4 linked regions of the Homo sapiens genome follow. The protein of the gene in region 1 purifies or fractionates together with the protein of each later gene. This does not show direct contact. Each region holds a gene or a part of one and is shown in the gene's direction. Other genes may lie near its edges.

Region 1 (7,507 bases):
ACTGGTAGGCCCTAGGTGGTGGGGTGGGGTAGGCGAGGTCAAGCCTGGGCTGGATGACCCTGTGAGAGAATTGTGCAGTGGAGAAGCCGCTAAGGAACTTACTCATTTGCCCATGAGAAACCATATATGGACACGGGGTTGGGGTGGGGGTGGTAGGGTATGTCTCCCAATCAGACCATCCGCCCCACCTCCACCAAGTCCTTTTCCTCCTAGCAGGCAGGGTCCTGGCTCAAGTTAACTCTTGAATGAGTAAGAGAGAAGATAAAATGAGATTTAAATTGAGTTTGAGAATAAAGGTCTAAAGGATGGAGGTTTAACAACAGAAAGTGATCCAAAAGTAATGCAATCTGCCCAAAATGTCATTAAGGGATGGAAAAGGGAGATTCAACACAGCATGGCTGAAGGCAGAGATTAGGGGAGAAAATCTTCATCATTATACCCCACAGAGTTGAATCGCCTCAATACACTGGCTCCACAAGTAAACAGAAAAATTGAAATACAGTGTGGTCGGGCTAGAGTCTTGCTTGGGTAAAGCTGCCCCAGGTTCTGAGAGAGCACAGGGGGATAGGTTGGTTGTTAGAGAGAGATTTCCAGAGGAGGGTTGCCTGAGATGGACCTTGAAGGGTGAGAAAGAGTTGGCCAGGTGAAAGGAGAGTGGCAGTGGGAAGGGAGCTCTCCAGGCAGAGGTGACAGCACGGGACATCTGGGGAGTGGGGCTGGAGCATGAAGGGGAAGGCAGGAAGGATGCTTAGAGATGTACACCAGGAGGCCCATGGCCTTGCAGCTCTGCAAGCTTAAGGGGTGAGGGCCCTGGAGAGCCACTTTAAACCTTGGAGCAACACAATTGGATTTGCATATTAGACAGAACACTCTGGATGCCAGATTCTGGCAGCGCTGTGGACACTGGACCTCTAGGCATGCTCCTCACCCATTCACCTGGCACTGTGAACCCACCTCCCTACAAAGGCCATTTCATCTCTGAGTTTCCAAAATCCTGGCTCCCTACTCTTTTGAATGTCCTTTGCCCCATTCCTATTGCAGAACCCTTCATTGTTCCCTTTTTGATTGGCCTCCGAATATTGCCACTTTCCCTTAAATCATCTTCTCGCTTTCCTCCTCCAGCACACTCTTCTCAGCTCAACAAGATTCTAGGCCTTCTCTGGGCCTGTGCCCACCAGCACATGCCTCCTCAGGATATGTATATACTAAAATATCTTCCCTTTATCTTATCTGGTCTTCGCCCCATGGGGCAACCCGAAGGCTAACATTTATTCCTTCACACATTAATTTAAGCTGCTTTAATTGCTGCTATGATATGTTTTATATAATATAATTAATGTTTTAATTCTGTGTACTTGCTTCCCCAGGCAGTTTTGTGAAAGGCCCAATTTTGGAATCAAGCAAATAAAGAATAAGTAATGGCTGAAATCATTATAGTAACACCCCTCTCTCAAAGGATTTAAAACCGTGCTTGTTTTTTTCAAAGTATGTTAAAAAGGGAAAAGATATTTTAATCTTCTCTCCATCCTGGGCATGTTTGGGTGGCTTTAATGAAGTTCCCTGGACCCTGATTTCAAGAGTTTCTGGCCTTTTGGTATCTGACCACCATTCTCAAGAGGCCACTGCAGCTTGAGGTCTGTGTTGAGATTACCAGCTTCGCACCCCCTGCCACCAACTCTTTGTCATGATTGGAGGCTGTACTTAGGATGAGAAGTTGCTGAACCCACTCATTCATTTATTCATTCATTCAGCACCCATATATTGGTGTCCTATTATGTACCTAGGACTGGGATAGATCCAGTCCTGCCCTCAGGGAGCTCACAGTCAAATGGGACCAGGCAGAAGGAGTTATGAGCTGGCATGCTAAATGCTGTGGCAACACAGGGGAGGAGGCAGGGTGGGATAGAGTACCTACCTCTGCCTCAGGGAGTTGGGGAAGGTGTAAGAGGAGGCAACATTTAAACTGTTTAAGAAAGGAGAAGGAAAGGAAGGAAACATCAAGAGCAATGAGATAAACCGTAAGGAAAAAAGATTGTGTGCCTGGGAAGTGGGGAGAGGCTGAAGCCAGTGTGCATGGGAGGACGTGGCAGGAAGTAAGCATAGAAAGAGAGGTTGGGGCTGAGTGAGGAAGGGTGTGCTTTGCCAGGATAAGAAATTTGGATCATCCTGAGGGTGCAGGGAAACCCAAAGAGGCTTTTATGCAGGAAAGTGTCCCAGTCGATCAGATCTGGAGTTTATCAAGAGAATCGCAGCAGTGTAAAGAGTTGCCTGGCACATAGTAGGTGCTCAATAAATCCTGTGGAATGAGAGAGGCTGTTGGGACAGTCCAGATGAAAGATGGCACCCTCTGAATTAGGGCAGTGGCAGAGGTGACAGAAAATAAGGGATGGATCCTAGAGGCAGAATCCACAAGACTTGCAAATGTGCCCTTAACAGCAGAAGCCATGAGAATGGGGTTAGAAGTGTCCTCCTCTTCCATCCTCCCTGATCTGTGAGGTCTGGCCTCTTGTCCTCTTCCAGAAATTGAGAGCTTGGAGGGTCATCACCTCAACCGTTGTCTAGTTCAAGCTCCTAAGTTTTCCTTGGAGAAAAATTTAGGCCTAAGGGAACACAGTCCTTCAGAGGCAGAGGCTGCACCAGAACCCAGGTGTTCCATGCTGCAAAGCAGAGTGTTAACACTGGTTCAAGAACATCTTGAGGGCCAGGTGCGGTGGCTCATGCCTGTAATCTCAGCACTTTGGGAGGCCAAGGCAGGCGGATCACCTGAGGTCAGGAGTTTGAGACCAGCCTGGCCAACGTGGAGAAACCCCGTCTCTACTAAAAATACAAAAATTAGCTGGGCGTGGTGGCGCCAGCCTGTAATCCCAGCTACTCGGGAGGCTGAGGCAGGAGAATTGCTTGAACCCAGGAGGCAGAGGTTGCAGTGAGCCGAGATCATGCCACTGCACTCCAGCCTGGGCAACAGAATGAGACTCTGTCAAAAAAAACCCAAAAACCAAAAACCAAACAAACACCCAAAAAACAAAACGAAACAAAAAACAAAAAAACAAAAGCACGTCTTCAGAGTTCATGAACCCAGGAAATGTAGGCACAAGTGTGTGTGTTTCTGCAAAATGAGAGGGTCCCGAGTTTCCTAACATACTTAAAGTGTTTTATGATGCCACAAAAGGCTGGCCCACTCTTTTTTTTTTTTTGAGATGGAGTTTTGCACTGTCGCCCAGGCTGAAGTGCAGTGATGTAATCATTGCAATCATGGCTCACTGCAACCTTGACTTCTTGAGCTCAAGCGATCCTCCTGCCTCAGCCTCCTGAGTAGCTGGGACTACAGGTGTTTGCCACCATGCCTGGCTAACTTAAAAATTTCTTTATTTTGTAGAGATGGGGGTCTTGCCATGTTGCCAGGCTGGTCTTGAACTCCTGGCCTCAAGCAATCTCCCTTTTTGGCCTTCCAAAGTGTTAGATTACAGGCGTAAGCCACCGCGCCTGGCCCCCACCTTTATTTTTATTTTTATTTATTATTTATTTTTTTTTTTTTTGAGACTGAGTCTTGCTCTGCCTTCGAGGCTGGAGTGCAGTGGCACGATCTCGGCTCATTGCAATCTCTGCCTCTGCGGTTCAAGCGATTCTCCTGCCTCAGCCTCCCGAGTAGCTGGGATTACAGGCGAACGCCACTACATCCGGTTAATTTTTGTATTTTTAGTAGAGACGGAGTTTCACTATGTTGGCCAGGTTGGTCTCGAACTCCTGACCTCAAGTGATCTGCCCGCCTCGGCCTCCTAAAGTGCTGGATTACAGGCGTGAGCCACCGCGCCCGGCCCCACTCTTAATAAATGCCTGTCTCCAGGTGCTGGGTGGGAGGTGGGATGGAATGGAATGAGGTGAGGACGCATGGATGCATGGATGAATGGATGGGAAGTTGAGACGACGCGCCCACACGAGGGAATTTCCTTTGAAAGAGAGCGAAATTCTGAGTTGGGAAACTCTTCCTTGAAACGCCTCCCCATACCCCAGCTGTGGCCTTCCCGTTTTCTGCGTGGTGGTGTGGGGGGAACTTCCTCAGGCCTCTCCGCAGTGGAGCCTCTTTCGGTTCTGCCAGGATACCTAGAGGCAGCGGAGAGCGGGGCAGGGAGGGGAAAACCGTGAGGGTCCCTGTGGCAGGCCCCAGCACCCATGGGATCTCTCTCCGGTCGCAGGAAGCAGGCTAGCTCCTAGCCCGCCTCGGCTTGGCCTTTGTGGGACCTGGGGGCAAAGAAGAAGAGCTGTCTCTGGGACCATGCCTCCTCCCGTACACAGCAAGATGCGTCCCTAAACTCCCGGGGGAATTAGACTTGTGGGAATGTTCTGGGGAAACTCCTGCGCGGTGAATTGCTGGGGGCTCCGCCCCCCCGATAGGTGGACCGCGATTGGTCTTTGAAGACCCCGCCCCTTTCCTGGGCGGGGCCAAGGCTGGGGCAGGGGAGTCAGCAGAGGCCTCGCTCGGGCGCCCAGTGGTCCTGCCGCCTGGTCTCACCTCGCTATGGTTCGTCTGCCTCTGCAGTGCGTCCTCTGGGGCTGCTTGCTGACCGCTGTGAGTTGTTTTTGCCCCGACCAGACGGGAGTTGGGAGTGGGGAATGAGAAGGAAAGGGAAGGAAGACTTCGGGGAAGAGGCCTTCCTGGCTGATTTTTGTGGGGGCAGGAGGGTGGGTGGGAGCTGGGCAAGGTGCCCCCGCTCCTGGCTGAATGGGGTGGGCTGCCTCTCTCTTCTCCCGGGCTGGGGTCCCGGGAGCGGCCTACAGGGGCCGCTCAGGGAAGGCACTGGCTGCCCAAGCGTGCCTAGACGGCCTGGACGGGTTTAGGGAGCCTCAGAGGCTGGCCACACAGAGACTGGTAGGGGGTTCAGAGGGCGGGAAGTGAGGCGGACCAAGGGAAGGGGCGGGTCTGGCCCGTTTCCTGTCCCCTTCTTATTGTGGACAGATGCCAGCCTCTGTAAGTAGTTATCATCTCCTTGCCAGCTGGGGCTGCCTTCTTCCAGGGCATCTTGTGGGAACAAGAGATGGGTGCAGAGGCCCAGGTACTTTTGTGAGAAGGCAAGGAGCTTTTAACATCGCCTTCCACCCCGAACCGTATCTTGGGTGTTCCAACCTAGGAGGAATCCCCAGGGCTTTGCCTTTTTCTCCTGAATTTAAGATGACATAGGAGACCCCTGGGGAGATGAACAGTTTATGGGACACAATAAAGGGTTAGGAGACCAGAGTTCTGGTTGGCTCTGACAGGGCTGGTGATCAGAGGGCTGGAGAAACCAGGGGTTTCTCCAGGCACCAGAGGGGCTCAGAGCCAACCAAGCATATCTCCGGGATTTTCAGAAGCCTACACTTGACTCACTTTTTGTTTAAATGTATTTTTGTAGTTCCTCATTCTGGAGGCTGGGAATCCCCCAAGTACCTGGCTCCTTCATCCCAGCCCCTCTGGCCTCCCCCTACTTTAGAGGGCTGTAGATTCCTGCCTGAAGCCTGGGCAGGAATGACCCATGGTATCAAGGAAAGCAAGGGAAGCAGCAAGGGAAGAGAGGGAGTGGGGAGGCTGCTTTGGTCCCACAGCTTTCACTTTCACCTGAAGCAATGGCTCTTAGGGAACAGGGAGGCAGGGGGAGGGCGGAGCTGGAAAGAGGTAAAGGGGGGCCCTTGTGGTAGGAGTGGAGAAAGAGCCAGAGGAGGTGGGGTGAAGGGTGTGATCCAGGCTTCTCAAGAGCAGAGTTTGCCCTCATAACTCCCAACTTTGGCTCCAGGTAGAGGCTGGGCTGTGACAACAATGTCAGAAGCTATCTATTGAGGGCTTCTTGTGTGTCAGGCTCTGAGCCAAACACTGCCTGTTTTCTTTGTCTGATTTCTCACAACTCCCCCATTATACAGATGGGCAAATTGAGGCTCAGAAAGGGGGATTGTCTTGCCAAAGGTCTCATAGCTAGCTAATGGAAGAACCTGGTTGTGAATCTACATCTGCATGATTCCCGAGCCTGCCTCTCAGATAGTGAGAGTCTCCAAGCTCTGGTCCTGAGCTGTTTTGTGGCAGAAGGACCAGAACTATGGGGAGTGAGAACTGGAGATTGACAGACTTTTAGGGGAGCGTTTTATTTCTCATGTGTTTGAAGATGGTATCAAGGACTTTCCTATCTTTGGGAGTGTGGGAGCTCCACGTTCACAGGATGGTGTCTTGCAATGAGCTGGTGGGGGGCAGTAGCCTTTTCTACTTCCTTTCCCATTTTGGGTAAGACACATTTCTGTAAGTAATTTGCTGAGATACCCAGGTTGAATGAGAGCCACCAGTTAGGTAGGATTCTGGACAGCCAGCCAGGTAGCCGGGCTGCTTGCCATATATCATGCAAGCAGAAACAAATGAATGATGATTAAAATTGCCATTTAATGAGCACCTACTATGTTCCTGACACTGTGCTAGGCCATATACATGTATTCTTTCTTATCTTCGTAATCCAACCTGCAGGGCAGGCATTATTACTCCCATTTTAGAGATAGAGAAACTGAGGCTAAGAGAAGCAAAATAACTAGTAAGTGTTACAAAGTCAGGACTGGAGTCTAAAGCTGTCTGACTCTCAAACTTGTGTTCTTTTCACTGGCTGTTCCCAAACTGTGGGACAGTTTTAAGGAGCACATGGACATAGAATTAAACATACACTTACTTTACAGTTCTTTTAAAAATCCTTCTCATTTTTTCAAAGAGGAAGTCTCTGGAGCTAGAATAGAGTTAATGCCTCTCAAAGGCTTGCTAATCCTTCTTTTAAAACAAAAATCAAGAGCAGGCCTGGGAGGGCCTTCAACAAGCAAACAACCAGCTGGGTTTTAATAACCTTGTTTTGTTTCCCCAGAATTTATTTTTAGGGTTACCTTTTATTTATGAGAAGTGATACTGGTTCTTGTCTCTTGGCAATGATGTGAGGTTTACATTTAAAGTAAATGTACCGGCCAGGCACGGTGGCTTGTGCCTGTAATCCCAGCACTTTGGGAGGCCAAGGCAGTCAGATCACTTGAGGTCAGGAGTTTTAGATCAGCCTGGCCAACATGGTGAAACCCTGTCTCTACTAAAAATACATAAATTAGCCGGGCATAGTGGTACACACCTGTAATCCCAGCTACTCAGGAGGCTGAGGCTGGAGAATTGCTTGAACCCAGGAGATAGAGGTTGCAGTGGGCTGAGATGATGCCACTGCACTCCAGCCTGGGCGATGGAGCGAGACTCTGTCTCAAAAAATAAAATAAAAGTATTGAAATTAACAATAAGTAATTAATAGCATGGGTGGTACCTGGATGTAGTAAAATGGTGAAGATGAAACACAAGTTGATGGAGAGAGGAGCATTGAGACCTGAGTTCTCATTTGGACTCTGTCACTGTGAGACTCTGGGCAAGTGACCCTCCTCTTTGGTGCTCAGTCTCAACTATCTGTAAAATGAAAGTGTGAGTTTACCCTTCCAGCTTTACATTCTAGCATTTTATGAGGGAAGGGCTGGATGAACA
Region 2 (7,025 bases), on another chromosome or scaffold:
TGATATAGGGAATGAGATCCCAGGGGCTATAAATGCTAAACTTCTGTCTTTGAGGCTGGAGGATTTGAGCTCTCAACAGATTCGGACTAAATACGTAGCTCTTATGAATGTATTCCTATACACATGTAGGCCGGGAAAGTTCTGATACTTACCTACCTAAAGAGAGCTCTGGCCATATATTTGACAGCAGGTTAGGAGTTAGAAGACCACTGATATACCATGATAATATTAGAAGGAAAGGACAATAAATAATTATATGTCTGTAATTGCAGTATTAATCATAGTGTTTTAATATCTGTATTTTATTCTATAGCTCAAAAGCATTTTCATATATAGTATTCTATTTGATCTTCACAATAACCCTGTGATGTAGGTAGTACCCTTATTTTACAGTTAAGAAAATAGAGGCCAAAAGACATTAAATGACCTATGTAATCTTTCTTGTTTTATTACCTGGACTTTAGCAATAGCTTCCTGATTAAAATCCTTGTTTTAGTCTCTTTCACCTCCCTTCTGTCCTCTACATTGCCACCCGTGTTACCTTTTTTTCCGGAAATACAGACTTAATTGTACTCATTTTCTTAAAAATTGTCAATGGCTATTCATTGTTTCAGTCATTTTATTTAAAACTTTATTGAGGTATAATTAACACCAAAAAACTGCATATTGTTTTGAAGTATCATTGACATTGATTTTTTTTTTTTTTTTGAGATGGAGTCTCTATCACCTAGGCTGGAGTACAGTGGTGCGATCTCAGCTCACTGCAATCTCCGCCTCGAGGGCTCAAGTGATTCTCCTGCCATAGCGTCCAGAGTAGCTGGGAGTACAGGTGTGAGCCACCAATCCCTGCGAATTTTTATATTTTTAGTGGAGACAGGGTTTTACCCTGTTGGCGAGGCTGGTCTTGAACTGCTGACCTCAAATGATCCATCCTCCTCGGCCTCCCAAAGTGCTGGGATTATAGGAGTGAGTCACCGCACCCAGCCAATAAACTTTGACGGATGTGTACGCAGATTAAGCTGTCACTGTAATCAGGATACAGCGCATACCCATCACCCCTGAAAGTTTCTTTATGGTCCTTGGTAGTCTCTTCCTCTTGCCTCTCCATTCCTCCATCCCCTCCAGGCAACCACTGATCTGCTTTCTGTCACTACAGATTAGTATGTATTCTAGAGTTTTATATGAATGTGCTCATATGCTTTTTTTGGTCTGGCTCTTTTATACAGCATAATTATTTTGAGATTCATCCATGTTGTGTATATCAGTGGCTTTTTTTTTTTTTTTTATTGCTGAATGGTATTCCATTATATGTATATACCACAATTTATTTTTTACCTGTTGATGAATGTTGGAGTTGTTTAAGGCTTATTACAGATAAAGCTGTTGTGAACTTTTGTATACAAGTGTGTATGGACATATACTTTGTTTTTCCTTGGGTGAATACCTAGAGTGGTGTGTTAGTCCATTCTCATACTGCTATAAGGAAATACCTGAGACTGGGTAATTTATGAAGGAAAGAGGTTTAATTGACTCTCAGTTCAGTATGGCTGGGGAGGCCTCAGGAGACTTACAATCATGGCAGAAGGGGAAGGGGAAGCAGGCACCTTATTCACACGGTGGCAGGAAGGAGAAGTGCGAGCAGGGGAAATGCCAGACGCTTATAAAACTATCAGATCTCATGAGACTCACTCATTATCATGAGAACAGCATGGGGGAAACCACCCCCGTGATTCACTTACCTCCACCTAGTCTTGCCCTTGATACGTGGGGATTATGGGGATTGCAATTCAAGGTCAGATTTAGGAGGGGACACAGAGCCAGACCATATATCAAGTGGCATGGCTGGATCATACGGTAGGTGTATGCTTAACTTTTTAAGAAACTTTCAATTTGTTTTCCTAAGCAGTTTTTTACCATTTTACATAACCACAAGCAGTGTATGAGACATAATTCCAGGTCCAATTTCTCCTCAACCTCACCAACACTTAGTATGGTCAGTCTTCTTAATTTTAGCCATGCTAATAAGTATGTAATGATAGCTCATTGTGATTATAATTTGGACTTCCTTAATTCCTAATGATGAGCATCTTTTCATGTGTTTATTTGTACTCTGTGTATCTTTTTTGGTGAAGTACCTGTTTGAATCTTCTGCCTGCTTTTTAATTGTGTTGTTTTCTTACATTTTCTTCTAAAAGTTTTATAATTTTAGGTTTTACATATAAGTCTGTGATCCATTTTGAGTTGATTTTTGTATAGTATATGGTGCAAGGATGGATGAAGTTTATTTTTTTGCTTATGGATATTTAATTGTTCAAGTTCATTTGTTGAAAAGACGATCCTTTCTCCACTAATTGCTTTTGTGTCTTTGTCAAAAATCAGTTGTCCACATACTTTATAGTTTGAAATCTTTTCTTTTTAAAGATAGACATCAAGCACTATAGAATTTTCCCTAAATATTTATGCTTTACCAGTATTCCACAATTTCTGATATGCTGTGTTTACAATTTTTTTTGAGACAGAGTCTCGCTCTGTATTTTTTGTAGAGATGGGGTTTTGCCATGTTGGCCAGGCTGGTCTTGAACTCCTGGCCTCAAGTGATCCCCCTGCCCCGGCCTCCCAAAGTGCTGGGATTACAGGCGTGAGCCACCATGCCCGCAGAAGTTCAGAATACTTTCTAATATTCTTTACTTTTTCTTTGGTTTATAGGTAAGTTTCAAATATTTGGGAATGTTTCAGTTATCTTTCTCTTGCTGTGGTTGGTGAACACTGAATCCTTTTAAATGTGTTGAGATTTGTTTTATAGCCCAGAATATGGTTTTAAGTAAACCTGAAATATTTACCATGTTGACTTAAAAAGCATGTGTGTTCTGCTGTTGCTGGGTGGAATATCTTATTCTCAATGTCAGATCAGGTTGGTTGAGAGTATTGTTCAGATCTACTTTCTATTCTACAATTATTGATAAATTATGGTTAAACAAATTTTTTTAAAAAGAAATAAAACCTGTGTTTTAAATGAACTCTTAGGGTGAAAGTCTCAGTTTTAAAATTGAGAAAACAGCGCTACTGTTTGAAGGAGGTTATTGGTGCAGGGCAAAGTCATGTTCTTTGGCCTCCTTTTGCTCCCTTACAAGAGGTGCCCTTGAGGCACCACTCAGAACTGAGCTCTCCACTGACAATTGAGGTCCCTGGCGCAAAGTCTGGTGAGTTTATATCTCAGTCTTGTCGCCTATCGTTCTGTAACCATGAATTCAGTGTGCGAGGACCAGAGACCTCCAGATACTTCCTGCACTTTCACGTGTCCATGGGCACTATTCATGCCGCTCTGCTTAGAATGGCTTCCAGCTGGCAAAATCCTTCTCATTGTTTATGGCCCGGCTTCAATGTCACCTCCTCTGTGATGCCACCCCAGACACTCCAGTCAGAATTAACCTGTCTTGTTTTGGTGTTCCCACAGAATTGCTTCACTCTGTTACATGTGTCCTCTGATGGATTTAAATTCCTTCTCATCAAAGCATAATGTCACCCCTTCTGAAATGCCTTCTTTTCAATGTCATGTCTAAAGTAGCCCGCTTTATCTTGGTTTCTAGCACATATCTTATTTTCTTTGTAGCATTTAGAAATTGTGTAGTTTAGTTGTTTTATATTTATTGTTTGTTCATTTCTTTAGAATGAAAATTCCATGGGACTGAGCCCTTATTTAGCTTGTTCACTGATGTATCCCCAGAACCTAAAACAGTGCCTATTAGGTTTTTCAGAAAATATTTGGGGAGTAATGAATGAATAGATGAATACCTGAGAGGTAGCATGTTGTGCTGGTTAAGAACATAGTCTCGCTGGGTACTTGCCTGTATTCCCAGCTATTTGGGAGGCTGAGGCAGGAGGATCACTTGAGCCCAGTAGTTGGAGGCTGCAGTGAGCTATGATAATGCCTGTGAATCTGTGAATAGCCACTGCTCCAGTATGGACAGGATAGCAAGACCCCCATCTCTTTTAAAAAACAAGACCATAGGCTCAAATCAGACTCATGGGTTCAAATCCTAGCTTTGCTCTGCTGAGACTGTATAATCTTGGGCAGGTTGCTACACTTTTTAAACTTCAGTTTGCTTATGAGTGTAATGGGGCTAACAATGATAACTAGTTGATAGAGTTGTTTTGAGAATTAAATGAGATAGCATGCAAGCCACTTCACTGTGCCTGGCATTTAATACTTGTTCAATGAATGTTAATTTTATTACTGTTGGTGTTGATATTGTTAGGCCACCCTTGTGCTACTCCAGGAATTACCATTAAATTTAAAAATTTCTGCATGTGGCAAAGAATTGCCCACAGGACAGCTTGATCACTTACAGTGAAGAGAATCTGCCATTATGACTTTCAGTTTAGAGTGTATCTTTGAAAATACTATTTTCTCTGACCATGGTCCTTTAGTAAGTAGAGTGTGTCTCTCTCAGTCAGTTGTCTGGCAGGTTACTGGTTTCACTTGCTGTGGAGAATAATTGCCTGTCTCTTTGAGATGTTCCAGGGCCCTTAATTTTCACATAAGCCATGCAGCTTATATTTTAAGTTAAGGCTTCTCAAATACACACCTCACATTTAGTGAAAATCTGAAGCAGTGGACAGCCAGAGACTTAATTTTATTTATATATTTTACATTGCAGGTCCCCAAGCAAACTGACTTAGCTTTTGTGTCTTACATTCCTAGGTGAGATTTGGCTCATTTGGGGCCACATGTCCACTCACATGTCACCTGTGTGTTACGCCCCTTTAGGCACTGTGGCAGACTCTGTAGGAAGAAGTTATGAGGCTGCCACAGTTACATTGTGATCAGAATTTTTATTCTATTGATGATTTTGAAAACACAAATTCTGGTTTTGGACAGGACCCAATAGCAGTTCTTGACTTCTTTCCCCTACCGTGTTTTAAGCTCTTGGAGGACAAGAAGGAATTTTGTTTTTGTTTGAGACAAAGTCTCACTCTGTCGCCCAGGCTAGAGTGCAGTGGCGAGATCTCAGCTCACTGCACCCTCTGCCTCACGGGTTCAAGCAATCCTTCCACCTCAGCCTCCTGAGTAGGTGGGACTACAGATGGTACACCACCATGCCCAGCTAATTTTTGTATTGTTTGTAGAGATGGCGTTTCACTATGTTTGCCTAGGCTGGTCTCGAACTCCTGGGCTCAAGTGATCCGCCTGTCCTGGCCTCCCAAAGTGTTAGGATTACAGGCGTGAGCCACCTCGCCCAGCCAAGTTTTACCTTTTTTTTTTTTTTCCTTTTTTTCTCGCTGTGTTGCCCAGGCTGGAGTACAGTGGCAAAGTCATGGCTCACTGCAACCTTGAGCTCCCCAGGCTCAAGTGATCCTCCCACCTCAACCTCCCAAGTAGCTGGGACTGCAGGCATGTGCCACCACACCTGGCTAATTTTCGTATTTTTTGTGGATATGGGTTTTCACTATGTTTGCCCAAGCTGGGCTCAAGTAATCCACCCACCTCGGCCTTCTAACCAGCCTCCCAAAGTGTTAGGATTACAGGTGTGAACCACTGCGCCCAGCGTGTTGCTTTTTTCCCTTGTCCCCCGCTTCTAGTTTAATACCTGATAGGTAATCACCAAATGTGTTTGAATGTGTTTAATGAGAATTCCTAGTGGGCAGAAAAATTATTAAGGTAAATAGATTCGGGCAGAAAAGAGTGGGATAATCCTCTGGAGTATTGTAGGTAGTTTAGATTTGTTTATGAAATTGTTCCATTGTCTGGGACTAGTTACCATAAAGACTCTCTAACATCACTTTTGTCTGTTGACACAGTTCCTAAGCCTGTGTTTTTTTTTTCTTGTGTCTAAAATTCTAATTTTATTTTATTTTTTTATTTTTTTTGGAGACAGAGTCTCGCTCTGTCACCCAGGCTGGAGTGCAGTGGCGTGATCTCAGCTCACTGCAACCTCTGCCTCCCGGGTTCTAGCGATTCGCCTGCCTCAGCCTCCTGAGTAGCTGGGACTACAGGTGCATGCCGCCATGCCCGGCTAATTTTTTTGTATTTTTAGTAGAGACAGGGTTTCACCGTGTTGCCCAGCTGGTCTTGAACTCCTGAGCTCAGGCAATCTGCCAGCCTTGGCCTCCCAATGTGCTAGGATTACAGGTGTCAGCCACTGCGCCTGGCGTAAAATTCTAATTTTAATATAGAATTTTATGGTTGCCTGAGCTTTAGGGTTTAGGGAGGAATATTCAACATCCAAGTTAATAATCATTTTTCTTTTCAGGACGTGGCTTTATTTCTCCAAGAATTTAATGCTCCTGATATATTCATGGGAGTACTGGCCAAGTCCAAGTGTCCTCGATTAAGAGTAAGTATGTACATTTCTAAAGCCTTCTTCTTTGAAGCAATAAGAACAGATAGTGCTGGATAGTCTTTTATTTTTCTCACTTTGATTTTCTTACTGACCATAAATCAACAAATCAGCCTGTAGATGTTAATTGAACATTGCCAGGTCCTAGGTAATTTGCTATTTAAATTTATTTTATTTTATTTTTGAGACAGGGTCTCACTATGTCTCCAGGGCTTGGAGTGCAGTGGCGTGATCACGGCTCACTGCAGTCTTGACCTCCTGGGCTCAAGGGACCCTCCCACCTCAGCCTCCCAAGTAACTGGGAGTATAGGTGTAAGCCACCACACCCAGCTAATTTTTATTTTTATTTTGTGGAGACAAAGGTCTCCTTATGTTGCCCAGGCTGGTCTTGAACTCCTGGCCTCAAGTGATCCTCCCACCTTGGCCTCCCAAAGTGCTGGGATTATAAGCGTGAGCTAAATGCCTGTAATAATTTAAAATATTAAATTATTAATAATTTAATAATTTAAAATTATGAAAATCATAGAATTTTAGATTCAGGCCGGACCAGGGAAATTAGCACTTTCATTTACCAGCTGTGGAGACGAGTTAGGCATAACCACTGTTATGCTGCTAGTATGTATCAGAACAAGGAACAGAGCCTGGGCCTCCCATTTTTCAGTTGATTTCTCTTTTTTACTGACAAAA
Region 3 (7,025 bases), on another chromosome or scaffold:
CCAAAAAGTTCCTTTCTTGCAAATAAACAGGAAAGATCCGCAGAAAATACAATTCTTCCCGAAGAAGAAACTGTAGTTCAGAACACCTCTGCAGGAAAAGACCCCTTAAAAGTAGAGAATAGTCAAGTGACAGTGGCAGTACGCGTAAGACCTTTCACCAAGAGGTATGTGATGCCTTTTAAAATCTAAAGCCAAGCAGTTACATGTAAGGTACCTTTAATTCCTCTCTGCCTTTGGAAGGTCAGTGTATTCGTGCATCTTCAAACTTGTTGGCAATACTTTTATATAGAAAGAACTTTTAGGTCTAGTTGTAGTGTGTGTTGATAATTTTTGATCACTGACTATAAAATTAAAAAATTGAATCACCATATTTTGTATATTGAAGTTTCTCTAGATATATTGCTTTTAAAAAGTCTGAATAAGTCACTTAGGTCTCTAATGAAATCTGCTTTCAGATCTGCAATATATGCTGGAATGTTATACCTATCCCTTAAAAAGAGCCATAACAGGCCAGGTGTGGTGGGTCACGCCTGTAATCCCATTGCTTTGGGAGGTCAAGGCAGGCAGATCACTTGAGGCCAGGGGTTTGAGACCAGCCTGGCCAATATGGTGATACCCTGTCTCTACTAAAAATACAAAAATTAGCTGGGCATGGTGTTGCACACCTGTAATCCCAGCTACTCGGGAGGCTGAGGCAGGAGAATCACTTGAACCCGGGAGGCAGAGGCTGCATTGAGCTGACATCAGGCCACTGCACTCCAGCCTGGGCGACAGAACGAGACTGTCTCAAAAAAAAGAAGAGCCATAACAAATTACTGGTTCCCTAAAGAGGTCCTTTCAAAACCCTTTCCAGAGTGGTGATTATCATCATCATTGTCTCCGATTACTATATAGTAGTTATAAATGCAGTGATACATTAGATTTGATTTTGATGGCAAAAAATCTCTCTCTAAAAGTGGTTGTGGGTGGGGAAGACACAGATTAAAGATAAGGTTGGAAAAGATGGACATGACAAAATGTGAATGTGACAAAATGTAATTGTTTTAAAATATTTTAATGTAGTTGTTTAAAATATTTTAAGGGACAGTGAAAAACTTCACAGAGTTAGTAGTGTTTAACTTGAAGCTGTGTATCTAAGCAAGTTAGAAGAGGATTTGGTGACCACTGCATCAGGGCAGGAACCTCCAGTTTGAACCTAAGGGGTCAGTAGTTAAAGGCAAGTTATACAGTACTGTAGAATCTTTTTCGTGCAAATGGGTTAGTATTAAGAGGGAGAACTGAGGGTGAGTTGGTTTGAGAGAATTGGAATGTCTAATAGAGCCTCAAGAACCATGATAGGAAGAGAAACAATAGAAAGAGCTGGTAGGGACAAAATGCAAGATGGATGACTATACTGAACTTAGTAAGGGACCAAGTGCCTGATTCCAAACTCATCAGACAAGCCTTGAAAGCAGGGCCAGGGTAGAGTACTTGTCAAATTGATGAGGCAGGTGTTTTTTCCAGAATAAATTCTGATTTAAAGCAGTCTCAGAGTCAGGGATGGAGCGGGGAGGGAGTGTATATCTGGAGCCAGACAAAGAGTGATGATGTTTTTCTGTAGATCTAAAGTAAATGAAAGATTTCCACCTAAGTCTCAAAGGGAAAAAGGATATACAGAAAGATTCATGATTTTAAGGGAGAGAATCTAGAGGAAGGAGGAGAGATCTTTAGTAGCCAAGAGAGACTTATGATTGAAACTTACAGTCAACTGAGTTTGTTAAAATTAGATATTTGTATTTTATGCCAGCTTTATTTAGATTGGTACCCCCCCAAATTTGTATAATAAAGATGTAGATTTGGATGAAGAGTATAGGTAGATTATAGTAGGTGGGATGGGAAAAGGTATAGTTCAAGAGAAAAAAAAAAGAGGAAAAAATCTTGTAAAAGTAGGATAGGTTTTCTGGAGGAATCTGGGATTTTCCCTTTGGTGGCACTGGAGCCTCAGGAAATATATTTTGGAAACCCACTAGAATTATGTTTGCTTATCTGCATTTTCCACATAAAACTACAGAATTATCTTGCCTTGGAAGATTGTTTAAATAGTTTTGAGGTATTTATTATGTTCTGTGAGAATAATACCCTTGATCATTTTAGTTACTTGATTTTTTTCTTTGTGCTTCTTTCAAGAGAGAAGATTGAAAAAGCATCCCAGGTAGTCTTCATGAGTGGGAAAGAAATAACTGTGGAACACCCTGACACGAAACAAGTTTATAATTTTATTTATGATGTTTCATTCTGGTCTTTTGATGAATGTCATCCTCACTACGCTAGCCAGACAACTGTCTATGAGAAGCTAGCAGCACCACTCCTAGAAAGAGCCTTCGAAGGCTTCAATACCTGTCTTTTTGCTTATGGTCAGACTGGCTCTGGAAAATCATATACGTAAGTTGTATTGGAAATGCAATTATCCAGAAGTGTTTAAATATACTTTTGTGAGAAGTGGCATAGGGGTGATAGAAAGAATATAGTTTTGAAATCACACAGATCTTGGCCCAAATCTCATCCATTTTATATACCAGTTCTGCAAACTTGGGCAATTTACTTAGCCTCTGGGCTTCAGTTTATACATTTACCTTGATACAATTCATCTTGTAATTATCATTGGCCCCATTTTACTGTACTTTATATATTTTACATAAACTAAGGCCTAGAGAGGTTATCTTTTAAGTATTTTGGTGAGAATTAAAAGTAAGGCATCTAAGCTAGATGTGATGGCACACACCTGTAGTCTCAGCTACTTGGGAAGCTGAGGTAGGAGGATTGCTTAAGTGCAGGAGTTCGAGTCCAGCCTGGGCAACTTAGTCCCCATCTCTTAAGAAAAAAGGGTGGAGGGGCATCTGATAAATGGTAGCTATGATAATAATACCTGTCCTAGAAAGAAATACTCAGCATTTTAACAGTAGCTAACATTTGAGTTCTTTTTTTTTTTTTTTTTTTTTTTTTTTTGTAGCAAGGTTTGTTGTGAAGAGCGAAAGAACAGAGCTTCCACAGTCCACAGCGTGGAGGGGTCCCAAGCGGGTTGCCCAACATTTGAGTTCTTACTATATTCCAGACACTGTGCTAAAGACTTTGCTTATATTCTTTCACAACAATTCTCTGAATTAGATAGTTGTATTATTCCTGTTTTACAGTAGAGGAAATTGAAGTTTAGTGAGGTTAAATATCTTGGAGTCAAGATTTGGACTCAGGCAGATTTGACTCCAGAGTCCAGATTCTTAATTATGAGATTCAGTGAACTTGCTTCCTACTCCCTTCCCAGCCTATTTCCCCAAAAAGAATTTTAAAGAAAGAATTAGTTTTATTTCCCCCTTATTCATAATGTATTTTTCAGGATGATGGGATTTAGTGAAGAACCAGGAATAATTCCAAGATTTTGTGAAGATCTTTTTTCTCAAGTAGCCAGAAAACAAACCCAAGAGGTATGTTCTTATAATACCTGCAAGCTTCTTTTCAGAGTAGAAAATAGTCAAATCAAGTTCAAATCAGTCATGGCCACTAAGGAAATACTTAATGGAAGATCAGTTCTAATTTGTAGATCACTCTTCTTTGGAACAGTGGTATGGAGAGGGAGGGTGGAAATTCTAAATTCAGAATCAGTTTCACCTAGTGGGCAGTGATAGTGAAGTCATCTCTTCTGTCTTTTCTCCCTTGTTTTTGCTTTACTTTTGTGTATACGTAGAGGCTCACAAACATGGTAGCTATGTGCTGTTATACGTGTGTTTGTAGTCAGATAGGTGTACAGTTTAACTAAGGACAGCAGGCATAACCTTTTGGACAACGTGAATCAGAAAGAGTAGTGAAATTGGGATTTGAACCCAGAGTTGACTTCAAAAGCCATGCTTTTTCCACTCTACTACACCTGAATAGGCTGTACTGGCTTCCTATTTCACTTATTCATTTACACATTCAGCTACCTTTTACTGAGCATTCTGCTGTTGCCAGGCAGCTTGTTAGATCAGTTTTTTTTTTTCTCAAATTTTCTTGGTCATAAGAATCACCGGGGATTCTTGGCAGGGACATATATGTGCATGTGTATGTGTATGTACACACTTGCTAAAAATCTCTTCTGGGGGTTCTGAGTCAGTTGGTCTGGTGTAGAGCTTGGGATTTTATAATTTTCATGCTTTTCCTCCAGTATTTTTTATGATAAAGGAAATTGGGAAAATTGTGCTAGATTAGGGGTGTGGAGTTAAAAGACCCAGTCCCTGTATTCAAAGGAGTGTAGTGGGAGAAATAAGTTAACAGCCAAGTACAATCAATTAAATGCTAAACAAACTAAAGTAGATGCTCTAATAGAACATGTAAGTGAGGACATATAAAGTTGGAGGGAGACATTCTCTCAGAGGAAGGAGCAGCTGAGCTTATTTTTGAAGGATACATAGCATTATTAGCTTGGTAAAGAAGGGGAGAAGGATATTCCAGGGAGAGGGAGCAGCATGTACCAAGATTTGAAAGCAAAAAAGTAGGGAGCCTTTGGGAATCTATAAATTGTTCACTGTGTTTTGAGCATGGAATTTGAGGGTGGAAAGTGATAAGAGAAGAAACTAGAGGCTGGGTGCGGTGGCTCATGCCTGTAATCCCAGTACTTTGGGAGGCCGAAGCGGGCAGATCACCTGAGGTCAGGAGTTCGAGACCAGCCTGGCCAACATGGTGAAATCCTGTCTCTACTAAAAATACAAAAATTAGCCAGGTGTGGTGGCACATGCCTGTAATCCCATCTACTTGGGAGGCTGAGGCAGGAGAATCGCTTGAACCAGGGAGATGGAGGTTGCAGTGAGCCGAGATCGCGCCACTGCACTCCAGCCTGGGTGACAGAGCATGACTCCATCTCAAAAAAAAAAAAAAAAAAAAAAAAGAGAATAAACTAGAAAGGCCTGCAGAACTTGGCTCATGAAGGACTGTCTTAGTAAGGATAACTGGTAAGACTTGCTGATTATTGGAAATGGAGGATGAGGGAGAGAGAAATCAATGTTTCTGGTTGGACAACCAGATTAGATATCGATGTCATTTTTTGAGATCACAAGAGGAAAAGTAGATTTGAGTAATTGATGAGTTCTGTCTCTTCTGTGGATATACTGCCTCTCCTCTGTCTTCTTCTACCCTCAACCTCTCATTCCCAGTAATTAAATTGAAAATAGGAGGAGTATGGGGATCAATAGAAATATGGTGGTATTGAGACTATGAGATGAAATATGATTCAAGTCCAAGTTTAGTGGGCATAAGAGAAAGCTGTGGGCTTGTGGGGCAGAGTTCTCTATTGGCTCTCCAGATTTTAGAGGGATAGTAATTTGAAGGTAAAGCCAGGAAGACATAGATAAGTGTAGTGGAGGCAAAGGTCTTTGGAATGATTTCAAAGGACTAGGAGGCTCAGATTTTGCGTGGAATGACTATGTCATTGAATAACATAGTGTAATGAATGCTTAAGAGCCTGGTTGGCCAGGCATGGTGGCTCACGCCTGTAATCCCAGCACTTTGGGAGGCCAAGGCAGGCGGATCACCTGAGGTCAGGAGTTTGAGACCAGCCTGGCCAACATGGTGAATCCCTGTCTCTACTAAGAATACAAAAATTAGCCAGGTGTGGTGGTGGGCGCCTGTAATCCTAGCTATTCGGGAGGCTGAGGTAGGAGAATCGCTTGAACCCTGGAGGCGGACATTGCACTGAGCTGAGATCATGCCACTGTACTCCAGCCTGGGCGACAGAGCAAGACTCTGTCTCAAAAAAAAGAAAAAAAAAAAGAGCATGGACTTTGGAGATACATTATTTGAATTTGAATCTCAGCTTCATCACTGCAGTAGAAATGTGATCTTGAACAATTTACTTAATGTCTTTCTGTGTTTCAGAACAGAAAATAGAGATTATATTGACAATGTCTTTCTCATAGGTTTGTTGTGAGCATTAAATGAGTTGATCTATACAAAAGGTTTTGAAGAGTGCCTGGCACATAGTGAGCCCAACTAAATGTGGTTATATCAACTTTGGAATTAGCCAGGATGGTAGAGAATAATAGTATGTGGATGGGGGTAATAGAAGGTGGTATAGCGAGCATGATGGCAGGAGCCTCAGAGGAGAAGAAAAAAGTAGGACCTCTCCAGTGTGGCCCCAGCTACCTTTTCCAATTTGTTTCCCACACTACATTTTCATTTCTAAGTCCTCCTGGAGCCTCTATAACATAAAATACTATTTTACATAAAATAAGCATTATTACGTGTTTATTGAATTCTGACAGCCCCCATCCCTGTTCATAGCATTTGTCAATGACCTTATAATTACTTGGTGTTCCCTTATACCTGGTCTCTTTGGAAGTGTTTTGTTTCTCTCTCATGACACCAGCTATATTCTGCCTTGTATTACTCATGTACTGTATTGCATCTCCAATTAGCTTCTGAGTTTTTTCAGGATAAAAACTATGTCCAGTTCATCTCATATTTTCCCACAGCTCCTAGAAGAGTGCTTTGTACCTAGTAGGGCACAATAAATATTTGGTGAATTGAACTTAAATCTCTTTGACACTCCCTTGAAGCTTCCAATTCTGTTAGATGCTTGCTGACTCACTTCTGGGTCAGTGGATGAAATTTATTTCTCTAATAAGGAAACCATGCCCTAACTGTCAGAAGAGCTGTTTGGAAGCAAAGTTTCCCGTTTTTGGCCTCTACACTGTATCTTTCAGAGTCAAAAGGAGGAGAAGCTCAGCCCACTTAATCTAATGATTGCTTTCTCTCCCAATCAGGAAGAATTGTTGATTTAAGGTTCCATCTTACCAGATCAAATGTCAACCTACAGGGTGTCTTTCCTATTCTGAGCACATGTGATGCACAGATGCTGCTGTCCTTGCCCGAGAATGCCCTACCCCCTCTTTCTGGTTCAATCTACTCTGTCTCTCATGCCTCACATTCTATTTACTCCTTCCCTTTTCTCTGGCCATCCTAAATTTTCCCTTTTCTGATTAGTCATATTTATAGTCATCTCATTTTGATTCTTAATTAAT
Region 4 (7,025 bases), on another chromosome or scaffold:
AGCTAGTCTGGGATCCACCTCTAAGAATACGTCTCCAATGAGAAACAGTTTTGCACATTCATTATCTCCCACCTTGGAACATAGTAGCTTGTTCAGTGGTTCTTACTCCAGCCTTTCTCCAAACCCTCTTAATTCTAGAGCAGTTGAAGACATCTCTTCATCGAGGACTAACCCCTACAGTTATGCAATGAGTACTGAAGAAGCCAGATTTCTTACCTACCATATGTGGCCATTAACTTTTTTGTCACCATCAGAATTGGCAAGAGCTGGTTTTTATTATATAGGACCTGGAGATAGGGTAGCCTGCTTTGCCTGTGGTGGGAAGCTCAGTAACTGGGAACCAAAGGATGATGCTATGTCAGAACACCGGAGGCATTTTCCCAACTGTCCATTTTTGGAAAATTCTCTAGAAACTCTGAGGTTTAGCATTTCAAATCTGAGCATGCAGACACATGCAGCTCGAATGAGAACATTTATGTACTGGCCATCTAGTGTTCCAGTTCAGCCTGAGCAGCTTGCAAGTGCTGGTTTTTATTATGTGGGTAAGAAGCAAATAACTATACATTTTATCATTTTATTTTAATTTACATATTAGAACATACGTGTTTTCAATATTTAGTCTTTTTTTTCCTGAAGGTCGCAATGATGATGTCAAATGCTTTTGTTGTGATGGTGGCTTGAGGTGTTGGGAATCTGGAGATGATCCATGGGTAGAACATGCCAAGTGGTTTCCAAGGTAATTGTTTTGAAAAAGGTATTTGTACAAAAAACTCTGTGCTTAAAAGAAGTAGGCATGCCTACATGATTTTGTTTACCTTTAAATTATAACAAAGCCTCTTTTATGCCATTGGGGAATTATCCTTCTAAAAGATCACATTTTAACTTTAATTATTTTGTTGAAAAATATTCTGCAGTCTTCTGTGTACTTTTGTAAGTCAGTTACAAGTATGACCGTACATTTTATTTATTTCCCATTTCTTTTAAAGAGTACTTAAGGATTACAAAGACATATAAAATAGATTAAAAAGACGTTAGAAAAAGGTAAGAACAGGAAAACAAGAAGGGACATAGAATGGATGCAGGAATAAGTCAAATGTAAAAGTCCATGTATTAAGAGCATATCTTAGATGGGCGTGGTGGCTCACACCTGTAATCCCAGCACTTTGGGAGGCCGAGATAGGTGGATCACCTGAGGTCAGGAGTTTGAGACCAGCCTGACCAACATGGTGAAACCCCGTATGTACTAAAAATACAAAAACTAGCTGGGCGTGGTGGCGCGTGGCCGTAGTCCCAGCTTCTCGGGAGGCTGAGACAGGAGAATCGCTTGAGCTCAGGAGGCGGAGGCTGCAGTGAGCCAGGATTGTGCCACTGAACTCCAGCCTGGGTAACAGAGCAAGACTCTGTCTCAAAAAAAAAAAAAAAAAAAAAAAGAAAAAAGCATATCTGACTGCCCATTTTAATTGTAATTGTAAATTATTTTTTCTGTACAATTTTTTTTTGTCATTTACCTCCTTTTAGCCACTTTGTCTCTAGCAGTGTCTTTTTTTATTATAGCCTAGAAATAATTTAGGGGCAGTGTTATTAGTAGAAATAGAATTAAATTGTCTTTGTAATTGAGTAGCTATGTGAACTTGGACGTTGTTTGTAAAATGAGGAGGGGTTGGCCTAGATAATTTTTTAAAATAGTGATAAAATAGGCATAACATTTACCATCTTAACCATTTTTTAAGTGTATAGTTGTGTGTCATTAAGTACATTCTTAACCGTTCTGCGATTATACCGCTATCCATCTCCAGAACCTTTGCATCTTCCCAAACTGAAACTGTCTACCCATCAAGTACTAATTCACCATTATCCCATTCCCCAACATCCTGGCAACCACCATTGTCTTTCTCTTTTTTTTTTTTTTTGTTTTGTTTTTTTTGAGACGGAGTCTCACTCTGTCACCCAGGCTGGAGAGCAGTGGCGCGATCTCGGCTCACTGTAAGCTCCACCTCCCGGGTTCACGCCATTCTCCTGCCTCAGCCTCCCGAGTAGCTGGGACTACAGGCGCCCGCTGCCACGCCCGGCTAATTTTTTGTACTTTTTAGTAGAGATGGGATTTCACCATGTTAGACAGGATGGTCTCGATCTCCTGACCTCGTGATCCACCCACCTCAGCCTCCCAAAGTGCTGGGATTACAGGCGTGAGCCACCGCGTCCAGCCCTTGTTTGTTTTTTTGAGGTGGAGTCTCACTCTGTCATCCAGGCTGGAGTGCAGTGACACGATCTTGGCTCACTGCAACCTCCACCTCCCAGGTTCAAGCGATTCTCCTGCCTCAGCCTCCTGAGTAGCTGGGATTATAGGTGCCTGCCACCATGCCTGGTTAATTTTTTTGTATTTTTAGTAGAGACAGGGTTTTTAGTAGAGACAGGGTTTCACCATGTTGGCCAGGCTGGTCTTGAACTCCTGAGCTCAAGTGATCTGCTCACCTTTGCCTCCGAAAGTGCTGGGATTACAGGCATGAGCCACTGCCCCCTGCCGCACCATTCTATTTCTGTCTCTATGAATTTGACTACTCTAGGCATCATATATAAGTGGAATCATACATCACAGATTATGTTTTTACCTGTGAGTGTCTTTCACAATAATGAAGAATCTCTTGAACCCCTTCAGGAAATTTAAAAAGTTTTCGTCATTTTGTATGATATATGATGAAAAAGAAACTTGAAGTAACAAATACTTTATTATGGATCAGTACATTGTTAAAAGTTGTATTTTAAAGTTATTAATATTAATAATATATCAAGATAAATTTTGACTTTTTTACACTGAAAAATGACTAAATTATTAATTATGTTTAAAATTAAAAAGCATGTTTTATCAGACTTTTAAATGACTTAATTATGTTGGGCTCTATGGGATTATATACATTAATTTGAAATTTAATCCATGTTGTGGTATCAAAGACAAAAACAGCTTCCAAATTCCAGTGTTGGAACTGCTACATTTTGTACCTTATAAAACAAAATCAAAATCTTTATTTTTGTAACTTGTGTTTTGTTTTAAATGATTAAGGGAGAAGATGTAGGGGCGTGTTTTGTAAATGCTTCTCTGAAAACAACACATTTCTTTTTTCCTTTTTTTTATTTTTTTGAGACAGTGTCTCATTCCATCACCTATCACTGCTGGAGTGCAGTGGCAAGATGGCAGTTCACTGCAACCTCCACCTCCTGGGTTCAAGCCTCAGCCCCCCGAGTAGCTGGAATTATAGGCACACGCCACCACACTCAGTAGTTTTTGTATTTTTAGTAGAGACGCAGTTTCGCTATGTTGGCCAGTCTAGTCTCAAACTTCTGACCTCAAGTGATCTGCCTGCCTTGGCCTCCCAAAGTGCTGGGCTTACAGGCATGAGCCACTGAGCCCAGCCCACATTTCAACTGGGAATAATCTTTAATCTCAGTAAATCCATCACCTTATGTAGTAACTTTCTTTTTTTTTTTTTTTTTTTTTTTTGGTGAGAACTCTTAAAAGATGCTCTTTCGCAAATTTCAGGTATAAGGTCCAGTATTATTAGCTATAGTCACCATGTGCTGTACATTAGATCCTCAGAAAGTTTGTGTTCTTTAACCAACATCTTCCCATTTCACCTACCCCCTTATCCCTGGCAACCAGCATTCTACTCTCTGTTTCTGTGAGTTTGGTTACCATACAGTATAGTTGTCCCTTGGTATGCTCGGAGGACTGGTTCTAGGACCCCCATGTATACCAAAATTCGCACATACTGAAGTCCAGAAGTTGACTCTGCAGAACCTGTGCATCCAAAATTCAGCCCTCCAAATATGTGGGTTTCACATCTGCAAATGTGATCTGCATTTGGTTGAGAAAAATCTGGGTGTAAATGGACATGTGCAGTTCAAACCTGTGTTGTTCAAGGGCCAGTTGTATTTGTCTTTCTCTGGCATATTTCACTTGGCATAATGCCTTCCAGGTTCATTCATGTTGCAGATGGTAGGATTTTATTTTATTTTATTTATTTTGAGATGGAGTCTCACTCTGTTGTCCAGGTTGGAGTGCAGTGGCACCATCTAGGCTCACTGCAATCTCCACCTCCTGGCTTCAAGCGATTCTCCTGCCTCAGCCTCTTGAGTAGCTGACATTATAGGCACCTGCCATCATGTCCGGCTAATTACTCTGTTTTTGTAGAGACGGGGTTTCACCATGTTGGCCAGGCTGGTCTCAGACTCCTGATCTCAAGTGATCCACCCGGAGTGGATGGGATTATAGGCGTGAACCACCACGCCCAGCCAGGCTCATCCCCCATTCATCCCTTAGTAGACACTTAAGTTGTTTCCATATAGCTGCTTGAACATGGGAGTAGAGATATCTCTGAGATACTGATTTCATTTCCTTCAGATATGTACACAGAAGTGGGATTGCTAGATCATATGCTAATTCTATTTTTAGTTTTTTGAGCAACCTCTATACTGTTTTCCATAATGACAGTAGTAAATTACCAACAATGGTCAAGGGTTCCCTTTTCTTCACATCTTTGCCAACTTTTGTTATTTCTTGTCTCCGATGATAATAAGGCATCATTACAGGTGGGAGGTGATATTTCATTTTGGTTTTAATTTGCATTTCCCTGATGATCAGTGACATTGAACACCTTTTCATGTACCTGTTGGCCATTTGTATATCTTTGGGAAAATTTCTGTTCAGGTCCTTTGCCCGTTTTCTAACCTGAATTATTTGGGTTTTTTTTTTTTTTTTTTTTTGCTATTGAGTTGTATAAGTTCCTTAAATATTTTAGATATTAACTCCTTATCAAATGTATAATTTGCAAATATTTTCTCCCATTCTGTAGGTTGCCTTTTTATTTTGTCGATTGTTTCCTTTGCTGAGCAGAAGCTTTTTAGCTTGTTGTAGTCGCAGTTTATTTTTGTTTTGGTTGCCTGTGCTTTTGGTGTCATACCCAAAACATTATTGCCAAGACCAGTGCCAAGGAGCTTTTTAGCCTACGTTTTCTTTAAGGAATTTTATGGTTTCTGGATTTATGTTTAGTCTTTAATCCATTTCTAGTTAATTTTTGTAGGTGGTATAAGATAGAGGTCTGGTTTTATTGTTTTACATAAAAACGGTGTTGGATATCCAGTTTTCCCAACACCGTTTGTTAAAGAGACTTATCATTTCAACATTGTGTGTTCTTTGTGCCCTTGTCAAAGATTAATTGATTGTATATGTGGCTTTATTTCTGGGCTCTCTGTTCTGTTGGTGTATGTCTTTGTTTTTATGCTAGTATCATATTGTTTTGATTACTGTAGCTTTGTAATATAGCTTGAAATTAGGAAGTATGATGCCTCCAGTTGTTTTTTTTGTTTGTTTTTTCTCAAGATTGCTTAGGCTATTCTGGGCCTTAAGTTCCGTACAAATTTTATGATTGGTTTTTCTATTTCTGTGATAAAAAAGTCATTGGAATTTTGGTAGGGATTATATTGAATCTGTAGAATGTTATGGGTAGTATGAACATTTTAACAATATTCTTATAATTTAAGAACACGAGATTGTTTAAAAATTTATTTCTGTCATTTTCAGTTTCCTTTATCAGTGTCATATGTTTTTCATTGTGTTTCTCTTTTACCTCCTTGGTTAAATTTATTCCTAAGTATTTTATTGTTTTGGTGCTGTTGTACATGGGATTACTTTCTTAAGTTCTCTTTCAGATAGTTCATTGTTAGTACTGACTTTTGTAAGTTGGTTTTGTATCCTACAACTTCTGGATGGTTTATTAGTTTTAACTGTTTTTGGTGGCATCTTTAGGGTTTTCTATATATATAAGATTATGTCATCTGCAAACAGAGAGTTTGACTTCTTCCAGTCTGATTTGGATGCCTTTTTCTTTTTCTTGCTTAATTGCTCTGGCTAACCCTTCCAGTATTATATTGAATAGACGTGGCAAGAGTAAGCACCCTTGTCTCGTTCCTCATGTTAGTGGAAAAGCTGAAAGCTTTTTTTTTTTTTTTTTTGAGATGGAATTTTGCTCTGTTGCCCAGGCTAGAATGCAGTGGCGCAATCTGAGCTCACTGCAACCTCCACCTCCTGGGTTCAAGTGATTCTCCTGCCCCAGCCTCCCGAGTAGCTGGGATTACAGGTGCGTGCCACTGCACCCAGCTCATTTTTGTAATTTCTTAGTAGAGATGGCGTTTCACCATGTTGGCCAGGCTGGTCTCCAACTCCTGACCTCGTGATCCACCTGCCTCAGCCTCCCAAATTGCTGGGATTAGAGGCGTGAGCCACTGCACCCGGCCAGCTTTCAGGTTTTCATTATCGAGTATGATGTTAACTGTGCACTTGCCATTTATGGTCCTTATGTTGAGGTATATTCCTTCTATAGCTAAATTGGTGAGAATTTTTATCCTGAAAGGGTGTTGAATTTTGTCAAATGCTTTTTCTGTGTCTGTTGAGATGTTTATATTATTATTATTATTATTAATTTTTTTTTTTTTTTTGAGATGGAGTGTTGCTCTGTCACCCAGGCTGGAGTGCAGTGATGCAATCTCAGTTCACTGCAACCTCTGCCTCCTGGGTTCAAGTGATTCTCCTGCCTCAGCCTCCCGAGTAGGTGGGACCACAGGTGCATGCCACCACACCCAGCTAATTTTTGTATTTTTAGTAGAGATGGGGTTTCACCAGGCTGGTCTCAAACTCCTGACCTCAGGTGATCCACCCATCTTGGCCTCCCAAACTGCTGGGATTACAGGCGTGAGCCACTGCACCTGGCTGGTTATATGATTTTTATCCTTCATTTTGTCAATGTGTGGTATCACATTTATTGATTTGCATATGTCATACCATCCTTGCATCTCAGGGATAAATCTCACTTGATATATGATTCTTCTAGTAGGCTGCTGAATTCGGTTTGCTAGTATTTGTTGAGGATTTTTGCATCTGTGCTCATCAGGGCTATTGGCATATAATTTTCTTTTCTTGTGTTGTCCTGGTCTGGCTTTGGTATCAGAGTAATGCTTGGCTTCATAAAATGAGT

Evidence for each region.
Region 2: the proteins of CD40 (region 1) and SAAL1 purify together in Homo sapiens (co-immunoprecipitation; 2 studies listed by BioGRID and IntAct, with this or other methods). This does not show direct contact.
Region 3: the proteins of CD40 (region 1) and KIF14 purify together in Homo sapiens (co-immunoprecipitation; 2 studies listed by BioGRID and IntAct, with this or other methods). This does not show direct contact.
Region 4: the proteins of CD40 (region 1) and BIRC2 purify together in Homo sapiens (affinity purification with western blotting; 4 studies listed by BioGRID and IntAct, with this or other methods). This does not show direct contact.

Annotation. Positions count from the first base shown.
Region 1 is NC_000020.11:46,113,828-46,121,334, forward strand, and holds the start of CD40 (tumor necrosis factor receptor superfamily member 5 isoform 1 precursor), read left to right. Parts: upstream 1-4,486; 5' UTR 4,487-4,516; coding exon 4,517-4,567; intron 4,568-7,507.
Region 2 is NC_000011.10:18,096,081-18,103,105, reverse strand, and holds part of SAAL1 (protein SAAL1), read left to right. Parts: intron 1-6,251; coding exon 6,252-6,335; intron 6,336-7,025. UniProt on the Homo sapiens protein: Plays a role in promoting the proliferation of synovial fibroblasts in response to pro-inflammatory stimuli.
Region 3 is NC_000001.11:200,610,751-200,617,775, reverse strand, and holds part of KIF14 (kinesin-like protein KIF14), read left to right. Parts: coding exon 1-164; intron 165-2,166; coding exon 2,167-2,421; intron 2,422-3,370; coding exon 3,371-3,458; intron 3,459-7,025. UniProt on the Homo sapiens protein: Microtubule motor protein that binds to microtubules with high affinity through each tubulin heterodimer and has an ATPase activity. Plays a role in many processes like cell division, cytokinesis and also in cell proliferation and apoptosis.
Region 4 is NC_000011.10:102,350,208-102,357,232, forward strand, and holds part of BIRC2 (baculoviral IAP repeat-containing protein 2), read left to right. Parts: coding exon 1-542; intron 543-636; coding exon 637-736; intron 737-7,025. UniProt on the Homo sapiens protein: Multi-functional protein which regulates not only caspases and apoptosis, but also modulates inflammatory signaling and immunity, mitogenic kinase signaling, and cell proliferation, as well as cell invasion and metastasis.